Regions from separate parts of the Homo sapiens genome. Here region 2 is linked to region 1. The links come from fine-mapping of genetic effects on gene expression. A gene starts in region 1. The other region holds a variant in brackets. All regions are shown on one strand. Distances are from middle to middle. Region 1 holds the start of IL16 (interleukin 16). Region 2 overlaps IL16 (interleukin 16).

What was found.
Region 2: its variant is fine-mapped to the expression of IL16 in whole blood (TOPMed, PIP above 0.99).

The regions. Positions count from the first base shown.
Region 1 is chr15:81,194,001-81,199,377 of GRCh38, reverse strand. It overlaps IL16 (interleukin 16), which reads right to left and starts at 2,499. Exons shown (of 19, transcript NM_172217.5): 1 at 2,226-2,499.
Region 2 is chr15:81,305,262-81,310,638 of GRCh38, reverse strand. It overlaps IL16 (interleukin 16), which reads right to left. Exons shown (of 19, transcript NM_172217.5): 17 at 4,473-4,731; 18 at 4,094-4,219; 19 at 1-2,034. The coding sequence ends at 1,841. STARD5 (StAR related lipid transfer domain containing 5) reads left to right here. Exons shown (of 6, transcript NM_181900.3): 6 at 1-1,586. Among named protein-coding and RNA genes, the nearest start is that of STARD5, 16 kb to the left of the region's middle. RefSeq lists a silencer at 1,908-2,085. The variant A/C (reference allele first, on the strand shown) is at 2,436.

The sequences.
Region 1 (5,377 bases):
ATCCACTGAGACTTCTCAGTGTTTCTGGCACACACTGAGCAACACTGTCTAGTTTACAAGACTGACATAGATTCGTCCTTATTTCAACAGGAATTCAAAAGAAGAACTTGAAGTAAATTCCTGATTTCAAGCTGCCTTCCTAGTTAACCACAACTCCAAGTTCTTGGAACTATTTGTTTATTTTGCCCCATGCCTATTTTCTCCCCGTGTTTATGAGCATATTGCTATTCACAATGAATTGCTTTTTAATAGCAAAACGTAACCTATATATGAAAATGTATTACCAATTCAAATGCACAATAAAAAATATGTATTTTATATATATATATATATATATATATATATATTTTTTTTTTTTGAGATGGAGTCTCCCTCTGTCACCCAGGCTGGAGTGCAGTGGCATGATCTCGGCTCACTGCAGTCTCCGCCTCCCGGGTTCAAGCAATTCTCCTGCCTCAGCCTCTTGAGTAGCTGGGATTACAGGCATGTGCCTCCACGCCTGGCTAATTTTTGTATTTTTAGTAGAAACAGGGTTTCACCATGTTGGCCAGCCTGGTCAGGAACTCCTGACCTCAAGTGATCCGCCCGCCTCGGCCTCTCAAATTGCTGGGATTACAGGCGTGAGCCACTGTACCTGGCCAGTAGATTTCAATTCAAAGTGTACCTCCCTCCCTCTCACTCCTATACCCCTGGGCCACTGCTGGGAACCAGAAAGGGGGAGGGGTTGACAAAAGGGCAGGTCTCAAGGTCCTGGTCTGCCTCTGCCAAAATAATTCTGCCTTAACTGATTATACATGAGTTTTCATGATAGATTTTAATTCTAAAAAGGTTTCCATGAATACAAACAATTAGAAAATAATAATTCTATAGTCAATTGCATCCAACAGAGATTATTTTTTAACCCTATGGATATATGACCATCTTTGTGTTGAGGAAACTCAAGTATTTATTGAGGCATGCCACAAAGCCAGTGAGAGCATGGATTTTGGAGTCAAGCTGGGTTTGGGTCCTGGGAACGTCTAGCTGAGTGGTCCTGTGCAAGCCTCCTCACCTCTCGGTTTGGGGATATACTCCCTAAGCTCCAGGTTGTTGTAAGGTTTAAATTAAATGAGGTATGTGAATATTTTAGCTTGGTGCCTGGGGCTTGAAGAGTGGCCAGGAAATGGTTGGGGTACTAAGTTTTATTTAAAAGACTCACTGGGGATTGAATAAATGAGCAGTAGAGGCTTCAAGGGTCTGACCCACCTGACGGCTCATGCCCACGTCATATCTGCAGCAGGGGAGGTGCCTTCTACTGTGCTCGTAAATGTTGACCATCACTTAACTTCAGGGTAAAGAAGGAGAACAGAGGAGGAAAAAGGCTGAACGGTCTTCTCCTTCCGGGGGAAACTGGAGAAATAGGAAGGGGAGCCACAGAGACGGCAGCTCCCAGGCTGCTTCCAGGAACCCAGTGGGAGCTTGAACTGGCCTCCTGGGACAAAGGGGTCGTCTTTGTATGGCTCAGCCTGAAGTGGGAGGATTTCACCTGATAAGGGCAGGAGGAGAAGATGCTTCCCTGTATTCCACAGGGAACCTCTATTCTTATGCTGTTACCTCATTCTCCAGCTACAGAAAGCAAACTTGCTATGGACCAAAAAAGAAAAAAACAAACAAACAAAAAACAAAAACAAAAAAACACCAATCCTGGGACCTACCAATGCAGGAATTAGTCACGGGACCCTTATCAAAAAGCAAGCAGAGTGAACACTTTTCCCATGGTCAATCTGCAGAGATGCCCACCCGCTGTGCCCACTTTGGAGAAAAGGAGTCTGGCCAGGCAGCAGAGAAGCCCCCATCAGGTGCCCCGTGGCCTTTCTCTCTCCTGCTGCCTTCCTTTCCTCCACCTCCTTCCACACCCCATTGCCAAGGATGAGACGAGGCTGAAAAGTCAGAAATCTCAGGACCAAATTCTCCCCGTGCTGCAGAGCCAGGTCAAGCGATATCCCTCTGCCCGCTCTGGCCTTCTGAAGCTGCTTCCTCCTGTACCTAACTGTGACATGGTGACACAGAGATTCCTACCAACACAATCCTGGCTTCTGCTCCTGCCCCTGACCCCAGCACCACTTCCAAATATGAAGTTACGTCCTAGCAACCAAGACCCTCCCCATTCAGGTCAGAGAGGCCAGCTTCCTCCCTCCGGTAACGGCCACCTGGACAGAGCAGCTGCCTGACAGACATTCACTCACCTGGTGCCCACCTACCTCCCTATGCACAGTCCCCCGGGGCTGCCATCTCCCTTGCTCCTCTCTCCATCTGCCCAGCAGGGATTGCAGCACCACTTATTCCCGGACAGCCTGTGGCCCAGGCCTGGGTCAGAGCCGGCAAGGATTGAGAAATGGACGCTCAGTTCTCAGACGGAGGCCGGCCTTTGAGTCAGATCCCAGGCTCCGATAGTTGAGATGCCGTGAGTAGGACACAATATTCACCACCTGCTCTGGACAGGTGACTCAGGACAAATGTGTCCCACCTGGCATGGATTTGCTCGAAGACTCCTGATCTGAGCCATCTGACTGCTCCACGTGAAAAGGCTTGATCCAAAAAGGGGGGCTGCCAGTGCTGAGAAGCTCAGCCTCAGAACAAGGTCCACCATCTGCTGGGCTGGCCGGCAACACCCAGGAGGCAAACCCAGTGCAGAGCCACAGAACCACAGTGAGGTTCCTTGGTCCAGCCCAGTTGCCCCTGCCTTCTTTGGACAACACAGAAATGACTAGGAGAGCCGAAAGGTAGCAGACATGACTCGGTGCCTGCAATGTGCCTGGCACGCTGCTAGGAGCTTTCTATAAACCTCATCACATGCTGGAAGCTGTGGCACGTGCCTATAATCCCAGCTACTCAGGAGGCTGAGGCAGAAGGATCACTTGAGCCGGGGGATTCAAGACAAGCCCGGGCAAACCATAGCAAGAACTCCTCTCAAATTATATAAAAATTTAATAAAAAGAGGAAAAAAGTCATCACATACAATCCTGCCATCAATCTGGTAAATATATCACCTGCTTTGCAGACAAAGAAAGCCACTGCACAAACGTTCATTAAACACCTACTACGTGCCGTGGAATTTCCCCAAGGTCACACAGTTAGCAAGTTAGCAAGTCAAAATCCACCTGTCTCCAAAGCCCAGGCTTTTTCCATAGCATTTCATTTCTTGTCTGTGCCACCCTTTCCCAAAAACAACAGACTGGCTCTCAGAAGCTTATGTAACTCAGTGGTCCTCAAGCCAGCTGCATCAGCAGCATCTGCTAGAAATGCAAGTTCTCAGGCCCTGGCCTAGACCTCCTGAAGCAGCACCTCTGGCACTCTGTTTTCACAAAGCCTCCAGGTGATTTTGGTGCGTGCTCAGGTGCGAGAGCCCATGACCTAACGTATACAGAGCATGTTGAAAACTGCAGCATAAAAGAATGGGGCACTTTTGTGTGTGTCCTGTTGGCATTAGTGTCATGAGACCAGAGTGCCTTTCCCCCACGTAGCCCCTTGGAGAATCTAATCATAAGGTGGCATTTAATCCATCTGCCCCGCAAAGAGCATCCCACACATCTCTCCTAAGCTCAGTCTCTGTGAGCCCTGTGTACATGCTAGGCTGAGGTTTTTGTATGGACCTCTCTTCTAAAGAATGGAATGTTTCCCAACGCTCAGCACCAAATGTTTCAGGGCTTCCTGGGGGCTTTAATGAGGGTGTAGGTGCAACCTGTAGGAAGCCCTTGAAATTCCATGCAAGGCTGCAAAGATCTAGCCGCTGCTGCTGGAGAACACAGGCCCACGGTCCCAAGGGAAGCACGGGAGGAGGGAGCACTCTGGGGATAAAGCTGCCTTTGTCAGCAGGCACAGGGGACATTGTAGGGCTGAGTCTGGAGTGAGTCTGGAGTGCAGTGAAGGAATTTCTAAATTGCAGAGAGTGAGCGCCTCTGTCAGTGTCGCCTGCTCAGCTCACACCCACAATCTCTCTCACAATGGCCTGGGTGCGGTGGGGCCAGGACAGACTCAGGCCCCACTTCCATCTTGCTCTGGCAGAGAGGCTGAGGAGCAATTCAGCACCCCAGGGCTATGGGGGCTGGCCTTGCCCTTCTTGGATCCTGAGGCCTGGGAGGGCCCCACAGCCCCCCTCCTCCACTAAGTCTAAGCTCTCTCTTGTCATCGGCACCTGAATCCAGTTCCCGCCTCTCCCTCTATTTTCCGAAGATCTGTTCTTTCTCACTCTCAGAAGGTAAATTTATTCCAAAGTGTAGTTGAGACTTGGCCCTGATTTTTCCTAATACGGGGTGGTTTGTGCTTCAAGGTGGAAATTTTATCACCCCTCTGCCCTTCAGGACATCCTGCAGAAAGAGTCTCCACCCTGCCCAACACTCCATAGTCCAGCTCACTGCAAGCCAGAAGAGACGGGGAGGAAGACGCAGGTGAGAGAGCCCCGCCCTGGTTAGAACTAGGAAGTTCAAGCACCACTTGAAGCTCAACCAAGAGCTTCCTGTGTGATCTTGGTCATTCACAGCCTTAGTTTGCTACGATGAAAATTAGATGAAATTAATTGTCTGCCAGATGAAATTAGAAACTTCTACTGCACAGTGTTACTGAGAGAATGAGGCAATAGAGGAGGAAGCATGCTGCCAACAGCTAACCAAGCAGAAGCCTGCTCACCTTTTTGGCCCTTCCAGCCCACGGAACTGAGAAATCTGTTCAACAAGTGATTCTGATGCTTGCTAAAGTTTCATAATCAATAACCTGTATTTCCTTCTAATTCTCCTATTTTTTAATTACAAAATTTTATTTCCAAAAGTAAATTTTTAATTACAAAAATTTTAATTACAAAATTAAAATTATAAATTTTGAAAAATTAATTTAAAAAATTTTAATTTTAAAAATTCTAATTTAATTTTTAAAAATTAAAATTACAATTACAAATTTAAATTTAATTTAAAAAATTAAAATTACAAAAATTTTTAATTTCAAAATTTTAGTTATAAAAGTAATACATGTTTGTTGTGGCAAGTAAACATATTCAGAAGGCAAAAAGAAAGTGTGTCCTTAAAATGACACAACAGGGTCATCTCCTATTCTGTTCAAACAATGGCAAAATAAAGAGCTTAGGGTCAGAGCAATAAGCCCCAGCTTCTGTACTAAGCGGCTCTGTCAACTGCAAGTCCTTTTACCTTACTGAGTCTCAGTTTCCATGTCCACAAAATGGAAACAATAACCCAATAATCTGACAGGGCTGCTCAGAGGTCTGAGCAAAGAGCTGTCCTGCAATCTATAAAATGCCTTGGGAATTCTTTATGCTGTACACTTTTGGTCATGCGAACTGTATTATCATGAGCAGAATATAATTTAACAATTTTAACTAGTAATGTAA
Region 2 (5,377 bases), 110 kb before region 1:
CATCACGTGGCCTCCTTGCCCAGCCTGGGTCATGGGAAGGGAGTGTTGAATTGAATCACGTCTTTCGTTGGTAGATTATGTTCATCTTCAATGTTTCTATTAAGTCTAAAAAGTGGATACAAATGGTGCCTCCAAGTTCTTGTCTAATTGCTTGTCTACTGCTTGACAAAATCCAGAATGGAATAGGCCAAACAAGTTAACCAGCAGGACAGAAACTGCTCTAAGCCCATTATTCCTTGAGATGAATAGAACAGTGAGCTGAACGCCTGCTCTAATGAAGCCACTAAAGGGGTTTACAGGAAGGTTAGGAGCCCAGATGGGTTTTGAGTCCACTGCTGGGAAACAGATTCTTCACTTCCTGTGGACCCTGGAGAAGCCATCAGATTACATTAACATGGCTCCACTGATGATGGCCTGAGAATTACTATTGTTTGTGTTTCATCTGTGTCCTTGCCAGGTCTTCCCCCACATCCTTACTTCACAGGATCAGGGGCTGAGAGGAGACCAATACTCTGGCCCAGGCCTGGTCAAGGGATGCTGGTTGTTGCTGATGCAAAGTCACATTGCCTGGTCCTGAGCTTGGCAATCAGGCATCCAGAGATGGCCAAACCAAATATCCCTTTGGCCAGGCACTCAGGCATTCCCTGTAATGTTGTGCACTTAAAGCATCTTGGGCTGATAGTCTCCACCGAATCACAGAAGAAAACTCAATCTGCCGCATCACTCACCAGCTGGATAAGCCATTTACTGTACACAGTGTGTGCCCTCTTATCAATACATTGGCACAGAACCATACACCGTAGAAGCTGCTGTGATCACTAAAGGCAATGCCCGTTTAGCCCTGAGCACAGTGCTTGGCATGTGGTAGGTAAGTAGTAGCAATTTTATTTGATACCCTCATATACACGCTGGTTCCTTCTGTCGGCACACCTGTCCACGCTTTGAGCTTGGTGCTTCACCTGTACTCCTCTGTTTACTGGCTCCACCACCCTTCCCTAGGATTACTTCTCCAATCCAACCAAAAACAATTTTGCAAATGTTTCATGTGACAAACTGTATTTTTCATAAATGACCCCAGCAATATTTCCTCTCCCCTTAAACCCAGGCAGGTTTGTGTCAGCTCTAACTGATGGAGTATGGTGGAGGTGATGCCATGCAACTTCCAAGGCAAAGGTATAAACAAGATGCAGCTTCTACATGGCTCTTGCGATCCTGGGATGCTCATCCTGGGAATCCAGACACCATGTTGTGAGGAGGCCCAGGCCACAAGGAGAGGCCACCTATAAGCATTCAGGCCAGCAGCCCCAGGTGAGTTCCCAGCCAACATCAACGGCCAGATGTATGAGTGAATGATCTCACGTGGTCCCAGCCTTTGCATGACTTTGCATGACGCCAGCTGATGCCAAGTGGGACAGAGATGAGCTGCCCATTCCAATCTCTGCCCACATTGCAGATTCATGAGAAAAATAAATGTCACTGTTTGGGGGTGAATCATGACACAGTTACAGTACTTGAAACATTTTGCGAAGCCAGGCATGAATGTCATATGAAATTCTAATAAATCCATTTTATTTGTGGCACCACAATATTATCATTAAGCTCTCTTTTTACACAGTCTGCAATTTGTATCAGCTGCCCCCGTGTGACTCTGCCCTTATTTTAGGAACAACCTTTTGCTGGGTGGCGTCCTAGAAGGTCTGGGCCTGGGCAGCAGCCACTGGGAAGCCCACCTGTGCTTTCCCCCATCTGGGTGGGGCGGCAGCAGAGACCCTGAGAATCAGCGGTTATGGGAGCTGTGTGTTAGCTGTGTGTTATTGGCTTTGGCTTCAGCATGTCCTGCCTAGGAGTCTCCAGCAGCTGTGGTTTCCTTGGACTGGAGGCTTTTTCTCCTGATGACAATCGTGACAGGTCCATCAGGCAGTGCCTTGATGATGTTCCAGGCTTCAAACCGTGTGAGGCCCTGCATGGCAGTGCCACCCAGCTGTAAGATTTCATCTCCAGGCTGGACTGTCTCACTTTGTTCTGAGGCTGCTCCTGAAATGAGGGAGAAGGTAATGGGTTCCACAGATGATGGGGAACAAGGAAAGTTGCCTCCTCTCCTTGATCTCCAAAGAGCCAGGATAGCTTGGTAGAGAACAGGGCACCATCCCTTGGGAGCTTGCTTGTTGGTGGTTCTAAAATGAGGCATCTCTTAAGATGGTGACTCAGAGGTTAGGGCACCAGGCTCCAGCTCTCCATGGCCTTTGGAAAGGGATAGCCCTTGCTGTCCCCAGGGGAGGGAAATATCAGGCAGCTCCACGCCTTAGCCTGCCTGGAGCACCGTCCATAGTTCATAGAGGACTCTGGGGAGCTGAGTCCTGCCCAGACCCTGCTTTGGACACTGACCCAATATCCTACTCCCTTCACATTTGTTCTCCGCATGTGGTGAGGACATC[A/C]GCATTGGGTGGTATGGGAAGAGAGCTAGTGAGATTTTTGTGCAACAATATTTACAGGGATCTTGCCTCTGGCACGAAGTCCTCTGTGTCCACATAAAAAAGGAAACAACCATATATGGCCCCCACTATTTCAAAGCTGCAAGTGAAAACAATGCTATTTTACTGTTTATATTAAAATAAAATTTCCCATCCATTTGACACAGTGATCTTCACAAATCCTGATAAGAGTAGAAGATAATACTAATGATAGTAATGAAAATATAGCTAAAGTGTATTGGGCAATTATTTTAACAGGCGTTGTGCTAATGTTTTGCATTTATGACAGTAATCCTATGAGGGGTGTATTATTTGTGTTTCCTTTTAACAGCTGAGGAAACCAAGAACTCAAGTAACTGGCCCAGAGCTTCATAGCTGCTAGTGGTGGGCCCTGGGCTGGAACCCAGACTTTCTGGCTCCAGAATCTGCATCTCTCCTTCCAACATCACCCTGCAGCTGGCAGTCTCATCCTAAACATTTAAGCAAATGGGCCCATGGTGGTGAAGTGACTTGTCCAAGATCATGCTACCAAGGTCATGTGGCAGAACTAACACTGGAATCTAGTCCTCTTGACATTGAACCCAATGCTCCTTCCAAATTGACCTTCAAAAATTAGAAATATCTTTCCCAGAATTGGGGTTAACATGGATTCTGGGGGGAATGCCATGTAAGCCTCACTCTACCTTCTGGGTTTCTGCAGCCGCAGCAGAACTTCCTCTAACGAAACCAGTCAGCAGCAGGAGCTCATAGTGGGTGAGGGACAGAGCTAAGAGTCCCTTTGGGTCTCAGTCCTAAGAGCCCTCAGACACACACCTGTACCTCTTTACCTCCTTTTATGGATGAAGAGCCTCAGGCCCAGAAGGGAAGGGTCACTCAGCACATTACAGGCAGAGCTGGGACTAGAACCTGGCCCACCTGCCTCCCTGTCCAGTACTCCTCTCTCTACAACCCCTTGCTCTGTGGCTTGGAGACCTCCAATTTGAGGAACACCAAAGAATCAGGGATGGTTTTACATGGTAGCCACAGTCATTCATGATTTTCACAGGGAAATCCAAGTGACCCCCATATCAGACTGGTTTGTACTCCAATCCCTGATGAACAAAATATCTATCAACATTTTAAATAAAGGCAGGAGCTGACGTGTCCAGGACTAGGGTAAGGCAAATGAGGCCAAGTGTGCAGTACAAAGTCAGACTCTGTCTTGATTTAAACTTGGATATTTTGTCCAACATGTTTTTTTAAAATTAATTTTAAAAAACACGCTGCATTAAAATAGTATCGATCTGAGTTACTGAGTGTTTTGGCACCCCTTTAAAATTCTGCCCCACAGGCCAGTGCCTCACTGCCCCACTCTAGAGTCCTGGCCCTGCCAACCCGAACCAAGCCCAGGACTTAGGTATTTTTGAAGACCCATCAAAACAGAGGGGGGATTGAGGGGATGTCTGAGCAAAGGAGAAAAAGTAGAAAAAGCAGAATTGAGCCCTAAAAGGACCAGCATGCCTATGAAGAGGACATGGAGTTGTGGGAAACAACATAGCCCAGAAAGTGCCCAGAAGCCTTTTGGGGGCCTGGCCACATGCCCACAACTGGAGAGCACGCAAAGAACCAGACACACCCCACACCTTTGAAAATCCTGTTAATGGTGAGAGGCTTGTCTCCGTGTAGGGAGCCCTTCCCTCCTTCCAGGCTGAAGCCCAGCCCTGCCGACATCTTCTCCAGTGTCACCGTGCAGACTGTGGCCTCTGCTGCTGAGAAAAACACAAGGTCTCTGTTAGGGATCCTCTCCTCTCCCAGGCCACAGATGCCCTGGGCTTCAAGTGAGCCCGGGGTGATACAGCCCCCGTGTTTGCACACAGGCACATGTAAACACGTCTCAGGCAGTGTACTAGGCAGCCACACATTCTTGGGGTCACAAATTACTGAGTAGCCCCATCAGGTCTGGCCCCAAATGGCCAAAGAGGATGTGGCCCATGTGGCTTCCACTGAGTTGGGAGAACTTACTAGATTCTACAGAAACATCACTGGCTGCAGAGGCTGAGGCTGCAGAGTCAGTGGAGGAGTTGAGGTCGGGCATGGCCTCTGGAGTCAGCTTCCTTGTGACAATCACAGCTTGCCTGGGCTCTCGAGCTTGGCGGAGGATGGCCAAGGCATCATGGTGCGTGGTCCCCTTGAGAGACTTGCCGTTGATGGAAAGAACCTCATTGCCCTTCTGAATAGTCCCTTCCTGGGAGGCCAGCCCATTTGGAAACACTCTGTGAACCTGAGCAAACCAAAGGAAGTCAGGACCAGAAATCACACAAGTCCAGTCCACATACTTGCTGGAGGAGGATTGAACCGGTTAGTCAATGCTAGAGGATTTTTAGGCCAACAAAGATTAAAGATAATTGTGTCCTAGATTGGAGCTGCTGGCACAGAGGCCAGCATTCCCTCCTTCTCCATCCAGAGCAGAGATCACCAGCAGTAATGACCAGGTAAGCCCTCAGAATCCATCCCAACACAACGTCCTATAGTGTACCACCACGATTCTAGTTGGGATTCCATATAAAATCTTTTGCTTCACCTGCCCTAGGTCAGAAGTCCCCAGAGTAGTTTTCTCAAGGCACTGATTCTATGGCATATTAACGGGTATTGTGTAAGAAAAAGGCTTTTCCTATTATTTTTTAAAAAATAGAGACAGGGTCTCCCAGTGTTGCCCAGGATGGTCTCAAACTCCTGGGCTCAAGCAATCCTCTCACCTTGGCCCCGCACAGTGTTGGAATTACAGGTATGAGCCACCACACCCGGCCAAGAAAAATTTTTTAAAATCAAAGAAACTTGAGGAATACTGGGTGAAACAAAAGCTCTGACATTGTCTACTTTTAAAAAGCAAAAGGCATTAGAGGGTCTACAATGCAAATTTGCATGGC